2 separate regions of the Homo sapiens genome follow, and region 2 is linked to region 1. The links come from fine-mapping of genetic effects on gene expression. A gene starts in region 1. The other region holds a variant in brackets. All regions are shown on one strand. Distances are between the middles of the regions.

What was found. PIP is the estimated chance that this variant, and not a neighbour inherited with it, causes the effect. A credible set is the group of variants that fine-mapping cannot tell apart.
Region 2: its variant is the best candidate, but not a certain one, in a credible set for the expression of THSD1 in whole blood (TOPMed, PIP 0.51).

The regions. Positions count from the first base shown.
Region 1 is chr13:52,404,018-52,408,548 of GRCh38, reverse strand. THSD1 (thrombospondin type 1 domain containing 1) reads left to right here and starts at 2,377. Exons shown (of 5, transcript NM_018676.4): 1 at 2,377-2,518. RefSeq lists a silencer at 2,288-2,447.
Region 2 is chr13:52,431,643-52,435,642 of GRCh38, reverse strand. VPS36 (vacuolar protein sorting 36 homolog) reads left to right here. Exons shown (of 14, transcript NM_016075.4): 5 at 761-850; 6 at 1,895-1,981. Among named protein-coding and RNA genes, the nearest start is that of VPS36, 17 kb to the left of the region's middle. The variant C/T (reference allele first, on the strand shown) is at 1,879.

The sequences.
Region 1 (4,531 bases):
TCAGCCCGCTGCTGCACTGTGGGAGCCCCTTCCTGGGCTGGGCTGGCTGAGGCTGGAGCTGGCTCCCTCAGCTTGCGGGGAGGTGTGGAGGGAGAGGCGCTGGCGGGAACCGGGGCTGCGCACGGTGCTTGCGGGCCAGCACGAGTTCCGGGTGGGTGTGGGCTCGGCGGGCCCGCACTCGGAGCGGCCGGTGGGCCCTGCCGGCCCCGGGCAATGAGGGGCTTAGCACCTGGGCCAGCAGCTGCAGAAGGTGTGCTGGGTCCCCCAGCAGTGCCGGCCCACCGGCGCTGCGCTCAATTTCTCGCAGGGCCTTAGCTGCCTCCCTGAGCAGGGCAGGGCTCGGGACCTGCAGCCCGCCATGCCTGAGCCTCCCCCACCTTCCATGGGCTCCTGTGAGGCCCGAGCTCCCTGACGAGCACCACCCCCTGCTCCACAGCGCCCAGTCCCATCGACCACCCAAGGGCTGAGGAGTGCGGGCACAGGGCGCGGGACTGGCAGGCAGCTCCACTTGCAGCCCCGGTGCGGGATCCACTGGGTGAAGCCAGCTAGGCTCCTCACTGGTGGGCACTTGGAGAACCTTTATGGCTAGCTAAGGGATTGTAAATACACCAGTCGGCACTCTATCTGGCTCAAGGTTTGTAAACACACCAATCAGCACCCTGTGTCTAGCTCAGGGTTTGTGAATGCACCAATGGACACTGTATCTAGCTACTCTTGTGGGGACTTGGAGAACCTTTGTGTGGACACTCTGTATCTAGCTAATGTAGTGGGGACGTGGAGAACCTTTGTGTCTAGCTCAGGGATTGTAAATGCACCAATCAGCGCCCTGTCAAAACAGACCACTCCGCTCTCTGTAAAATGAACCAATCAGCAGGATGTGGGTGGGGCCAGATAAGAGAATAAAAGCAGGCTGCACGCGCCGGCAGTGGCAACCCGCTGGGGTTCCCTTGCAAAGCGTGGGAGCTTTGTTCCTTGGCTCTTTGCAATAAATCTTGCTGCTGCTCACTCTTTGGGTCCACACTGCCTTTATGAGCTGTAACACTCACTGCGAAGGTCTGCAGCTTCACTTCTGAAGCCAGCGAGACTACGGACACACTGGGAGGAACGAACAACTCCAGACGCGCCGCCTTAAAAGCTGTAACACTCATGGCGAAGGTCCGCAGCTTCACTCCTGAACCAGCGAGACCACGAACCCACCAGAAGGAAGAAACTCTGAACACATCCGAACATCAGAAGGAACAAACTCCGGACAGGCCGCCTTTAAGAACTGTAACACTCACCGCGAGGGTCCGCAGCTTTATTCTTGAAGTCAGAAAGACCAAGAACCCACCAATTCCGGACACAGTACCCAATAGGATGTTTTTCAGCCCTTGCCCCTTTCTCTCCCTCCCTTGACTTGGAGTCTCCAGTGTTTGTTGTTGCCATCTTTATGTCCATGAGTACCCGTTGTTTAAGCTCCCACTTATAAGTGAGAACATTCGGTGTTTGGTTTTCTGTTCCTATGTTAATTCACTTAGGATAATGTCCTCCAACTGCATCCATGTTGCTACAGAGGACGTGATTTTGTTCTTTTTTTATGGCTGTTTAGTATTTCGTGGTGTGTATGTACCACATTTTCTTTACCCAGTCTACTGTTGATGGGCACCTAGGTTGATTCCATGTCTTTGCTATTGTAAATAGTACTGTGATAAACATAGTGCGGGTGTCTTTTTGGCAGAATGATTTATTTTCCTTTGGGCATACACCCAGTAATGGGATTGCTGGGTCGAATGATCTTTCTGTTTTTAGTTGAGAAATCTCCAAACTGCTTTCCACAGTGGCTGAACTAATTCACATTCCTATAAAAAGAACTTTAACACTTGCAGAGTAGAGTTTTTAAAATGTTTAGTTATTTTTAATACCAATTCTGACCCCAGGGAAAGAAAATGGAGATGCACTTTACCTGAACTATGTTCTTTTGAAACTCTTCAGTGACATTTGGGAAAGCAAGTTTACAGCCCACATGCTGTGCCGCTTCAAGGACTTATTTTTGTGGTCTCCCTGAAGAAAATGACACTAGAGTAGAAGTGATTGAATGTGAAGTGTCAGGAGATTGCTCGCTCGTCCTTCGTTAAACCCCTGGTCCGGCTGTGTGCTGTGGATGCGGGTGTGTGTTGAGGGGACCTGCGTCTGCCGGGGCCGCACCCCCTCCCGCAGGACCTTGGCTGGCCGCGCGTTTCCTGCCTGTTTCCTGTCCAGCAGCTGGCGAGCTGGGGACCGGCAGGAAAGGATGCGCTGCCCAGAAGGGGCGGGAACCGACCACGCCCGGTCCCGTGTGCCCCCCGCCCTCCCGGCGCCCGCCCTCCCCACGCCGTCGGGGGCGGGCCCCGCGGGGCTGTGGGAGCCGAACGCCGCGGGGTCAGGGCGTGCAGTCTGGGACGCGGGATGCTTGGCGCTCTACCTCGCCGCCCCTGAGCCTTCCCGTCCGCCTCGCCACGCGCCCGGACGGCCTGGGGTTGCTGCCCGTCAGTCTCGAAAGGTAAGAAGCGCCCTCCGCATCCTGGTGTTCGCGCCCGTGCCGCGAGACTCTTGGAGGCTCCTCTGGGGTCGGGAAATGCCTCCGGACTCTGCCACCTCACCGCAGCCTGAAGGCGCAGGTGGACGGTGGCGGCCCCTCCCCACACCCGCCTCGGCCCCAGGGGACGCTTTTAAGGGGTATTGGTCTCCACACTTCGGAGTCCCGAATTTAAGTGAACCTGGCTCTGCCTTGGCTCAGATGTTGCCGAGTGACTGAGACTGGCCACAGAACCTTGAAAAATCGCGTCTTGAGCTACTGTTTCTTTCCAAAAAGAAATCCTTTCTGATATACAAAAAGTATGAAATACAAGGATTAAATTAAATTAAAGACGGTCCTCATTAAGGAGGGCTTTAAGCTGACGACGCGAGGGGTAGACTTCCAGGCGTGAACTGGGCTTGCGGGCATTTGGGAAGCTGAGTAGATGGGGCGAGCCAGGGCGTCCCAGGAACGCTGCACCCAACCTGTGGGACCAGGGCAGAGCAAACTCGAATGAACAGATAAATGAAGCCTGTTTACACGAGCTGCTTTAGAACTAGAGATTTCCTCCCAATAAATACTATTGGTATATATACACACAAGCATGTGCATGTTGGTCAGAAGGGACAAAATAACTGCTTCGTTTTCCATTTTATTCTTTCACGAATCATTGGTCCCATGGACATTAGTGTAATTCATTTACTTTTTCTGCAGCTATGAAGGGAGATTTAGAAGCGTTTGTCCTAGCTGGTTTCAGCAAAAACATGGGGTCTCAGGTTGGGTGATGCTGTTAGCCATTGAGAATATTCACAACTTTTCCCCACCTTCTCAGCTGATGCATTTAGAATTTGTCTCTAAAGTTTACATACAAGAATGCTAGGTAGAAGTATTTTCAAATGTGTATAAAATATATCTAAGTTCTTAATTTCTTAGAACAATTCTCAATGCAAACATTGTAAGAAGTCAGTCGAGGTATTGAGAACAACATGTTGAAAGAAAATAAGCAAGGTAGAAAGAAATTAAAGAGACATATTATGACTAATGTTATGATCATATTCCATATTATGATTGACAAGTAGGCTGGTCTGTTTTATAAGTCTTTTTCCATTCAGCTCTAAATATAGATTGTCTCACCATTCTATGTTTTACCGATCATTTTCATAAGAAAGAAAATGTGTTATAATCACTAAATCAGTAATGATTTGGGGCTTCAAAAATAAAAATGTTATTGTCGTGGAAGCAAACAAATCTGAGAGAAGCCAGTTCAACTTTTGGGAGCTTGCTTCTTCTTAGTTTGGTTACCAGGTCTCAGTGACTTAAAAGAAGCATTGTAATTGTCTTAAGTGCTCACACTTGCCCAAGTGATGTGATGTGTTCTGCAAGGATCTTACTGGCTGACTTTGCCCAGGTTTCCCAGTCCATGTTCGAGGAAAGAATTGGGTCAAGTCTGTGGCTAATTCCACCCAAAACAATTTTCTTCTTCTTTCCTTTCTTTTCTTTTTTTTGGGTGGGGGTGGCGGGGAAGAGGAAGGAGCCCTAATCTGCATAGTTACACTTCAAATCTCTGTTTCCCTTTCAGGAAGTACAGTATTTCCTTTGTTCAGCAGCTCTTGCTGAAAGAAAGCTAATAAGACACACCAGTTTCCCTTCCATTGAATTCTGGCTTATTTCAATCAGTCTTCTTAATTCCACTAATTTGTGCTCTTATCTGAAAAGATGTAACATGTATTTGGAATATAATATACTTGCTTATTAAAATGATTAACTGTGGGCTGGGTGTGGTGGCTCACGCCTGTAATCCCAGCACTTTGGGAGGCCATGGTGGGCAGATCACGAGGCCAGACATCTGAGACCAGCCTGGCCAAAGTGGTGAAACACCGTTTCTACTAAAAATACAAAAATTAGCCAAGCGTGGTGGTGCACACCTATAATCCCCGCTACTCAGAAGCCTGAGGTGGGACAATCACTTGAACCTGGGAGGTGGAGGTTGCAGTGAGC
Region 2 (4,000 bases), 27 kb before region 1:
TTTGTGAGCATAGGTATGTTTTGGTCCTACTTTTTGGTTTTATATTTTAACTAGACAAATGATTCTCTGCTTCCTTCATGGAGAATGGTTGTATATTTTTCCTGGCACTGTGTTTGTTTCATTATAGATCGAAAACAATCCACATACACAGGATTGTTTAAAGTAAGTCTATTGATTTCATTGTCACTCATCTCTTTGTTGAGAATAGCCCACTTTATATAGAAGGTCAGTTCCTTCTCTTTTTTTTTTTCCCTTGTGCTTTCTGAAGCTGATCCAAGAAAAGAACTTCCTTTGATTTTCTTTGATGTCTCTGAGAATTCTGGGCTTGCTGCAAATGACTGAACAGACTTTTATACTGAAGAAATGTTAAGTGGCCGGGCGCGGTGGCTCACACCTATAATCCCAGCACTTTGGGAGGCTGAGGCGGGCAGATCACCTGAGGTCGAGAGTTCAAGACCAGCCTGACCAATATGGAGAAACCCCATCTCTACTAAAAATACAAAATTAGCTGGGTGTGGTGGCACATGCCTGTAATCCCAGCTACTTGGGAGGCTGAGGCAGGAGAATCACTTGAATCGGGGAGGCGGAAGTTGTGGTGAGCCTAGATCACGCCATTGCACTCCAGCCTGGGCAACAAGAACAAAACTCCACCTCAAAAAAAAAAAAAAAAAGAAAAAAAGAAAGAAATGTTAAGTAATGATTTATACAAGGATGTTACAATCTGACTGAGTCATTTAAAGTGTATTTATTTGCGTATCAGTTTTACAGGCGTTTATCAGAGGAAATGACACAAAGAAGATGGGAGAATATGCCAGTTTCCCAGTCATTACAAACAAATAGAGGACCCCAGGTATTTTTAAAACTATTTGCTAATCCAGTATTTTCAACTCTGTACTTACATCTTCATTAAGAAAAAGACTCTGTGATTGTAGAACTTGCCCAAAACAAAATACTGCAATGGTATTCTTATAAAGAATTTATTTTCGGTAGGGCGCGGTGGCTCACGCCTGTAATCCCACTACTTTGGGAGGCCAAGGCGGGGTGGATCATGAGGTCAGGAGTTCAAGACCAGCCTGGCCAACATTGTGAAACCCTGTCTCTACTAAAAATACAAAAATTAGCCAGGCAGGTTGGTGCACGCCTGTAATCCCAGCTGCTCAGAAGGCTGAGGCAGGAGAGTCACCTGAACCCAGGAGGCGGAGGTTGCTGTGAGCCAAGATTGCACCATTGCACTTCAGCCTGGGCGACAGAGCAAGACTCCGTCTCAAAAAAAGAAAAAAAAAATTATTTTCACAGCACCTAATTTAGTGCTGTCTATACAGCAGACGCTTAGTAAACATAAATGACTGCTTACCAGCGTAATTCTTAGGGTGATAGAAGGTAGGGTTCACTCACTGCATTCTGTTCTTCATAATCAGTGTGACATTTGAGAGAATAGACAGTACAGCTGGGTAATGTTTTCCAGGCCTGTCTAAATTAATCACCAACACTAGACAGGTACTCAAATGTATGAAAGTAGCTTGAATAATAACTTAATTAAGAACCAAAATTTAAACTGTGATTTTTTTTGTACATTTGAGACCCTATTAAGTATCTGATACGTAATAGCTTGCCAAAGAAGGAAAATGATAGGAAATTTAACTTATCTCTAAAATGCAGAGTAAAATATGCCATTTATTGTATATTTGGTTTTTCCTGAATGATTTTAAGATCATTATGTACAGCAAGAAACAAACACATGTTTTGAAGGGAAGCTAAATGTCCGTGTATGCTGTTTTTCTTTGGTTCTTTGTAGGTCCTTTCCCGCCATTGAAAACACAATGTGGTTGGTTACAAAAGATTTTGTTTCCTTCCTATTTTGTATGTTTTATTTTCTAC[C/T]TCTTTTTTTTTTCAGCCAGGAAGAATAAGGGCTGTAGGAATTGTAGGTATTGAAAGGAAACTGGAAGAAAAAAGAAAAGAAACTGACAAAAACATTTCTGAGGTAACTGTTAAATTCTGGCTCTCCATCTATTCCAGCCATTTGTGTCTATTCTTTTAGATACAGCTGTGCCTAATTCCCTTCTGTAATTTAGAATATATTTCATTTGCCTGAAGCTACATAGTCTCCTATTCTCTTTAACAGGTCTACCTCGGGCTGGCAAAATCTAACCAAAACCTTTTTCTAAAAGGAATAAAAAAGAAATGCAAATTTGTTTGCTGTTAGAAAACATCATAAAATGTTGTGTGTAGATTTTACAGTCTAGATGAAATTGATTGGCGGATACTCCTAATGAGTTCAGGGTTCTCTGTATAATTATTTTGGAAGTTGAAGTAACTTAGTTGAGAGAAAAATGCTATTCTGTGGCCAGTCTGTGGCCAGATACCACACCATTTTATGTTGATGACCACCCAGGGATCAGACCAGACATCAGTAAGAACGGCTCAAAGCAGCCCATCACTTCTACTGGGGGACAACCCTGAGCATGTACATTCCAGTGTTTCTGAGGCTTCATGATATATGAGGAAATTCAAGAGAAGGGGAAAGAACTCTAGCTAAAAAGACCAGTTATGCATTAGATTCTGTAATTAGTTAATACAGCTAAACATATCACTGGTTTTTCCATGTTTATATAAAAATGGTCTTGGTTTTTTATGAAATGATGCTTTAAAGTAAATCTTTGGTTTTTATAGTAATTCATAAGTAAAATTCTGTTGATGGTTGCTTTTCAGAGAATTTCAAAGATTTATGTCAATCAAGTAAAGTCTAAAACTACAAATAGTTATTTAAATACTTATTTTGGGCTCACTAATTGAAAATATAGATTACTGTTGGGGAACCAAGGGCATTTGACCTATTAAGTGCCCATAGTAGGTTTTTCTGGATATGTATCTGTGGTGAAGTTGTATATTTTCCTCAACCCTGTATTTTCCCCAAATTGGCAGCTGGATCCAGAATCTCTGTCACACTCATGTTCTGTCCGTTTGGCAAAACTAGAGGTGATGCTGTGTTCTTTCGTCAGAGGCACATCTTATCTCTGTCATGTTAGCAGCTGTTAATATTCAGTGCCTAGATCTATTAGTTCATTGGTGGTGGTAAATAGTGATAATTCTGTGTTTATTTTTCATTTATTAGTTGGAATACTTTTTAAAGAAATGTTTCCCTTATCTACTATTTGGTTGTCCAGTTCATATAGGAAAGGCAGGATAATTGCATTTTCCTTTATCATCAGGGTAATAAATTGTTTCCTTATTATCTTTTGACGATGACTAATTAGGTTTGTTTGTTTTTTTGTTTTGTTTTGTTTTGTTTTTTGAGACAGAGTCTTGCTCTGTCGCCCAGGCTGGAGTGCAGTGGCTCGATCCTGGCTCACTGCAAGCTCTGCCTCCCAGGTTCACGCCATTCTCCTGCCTCAGCCTCCCGAGTAGCTGGGCCTATAGGCGCCCGCCACCAAACCTGGCTAATTTTTTGTATTTTTAGTAGAGACGGGGTTTCACCATGTTAGACAGGATGGTCTTAATCTTCTGACCTCGTGATCCGCCGCCGCGGCCTCTCAAAGTGATGGGATTACAGGCATGTGCCACCGCGCCCAGCCAACTAATTAGGTTTTTTTTAACATGTCATTATGAATTCATGGAGTTTAGCATATTTGATGGATTTCAATCAGTTATAATTATTATCCTATTTGAAGCTCAAATTGTCCCATCTTTGGCCAGTGGGAGCTGCTTCAAGTTGGCCCTCTAAGTGCTTTTGTTGTGACTAGGTGAACTTTGCTAGCTTCTTCACTATCTGGTGTTGCAAAAGCTCCAGGACCATCTTGTACATTTCCTGCCTCAGATCCGGAATCAACCATTTATCTGAGAAACTCTGGTTTCTTTCTTTCTTTTTTTTTTTTTTTTTTTTGAGACAGAGTCTTACTCTGTCGCTTAGGCTGGAGTGCAGTGCCGCTATTTTGGCTCACTGCAACCTCTGCTTCCCGGATTCAAGCGATTCTCCTGCCTTAGCCTCCCGAGTAGCTGGGAT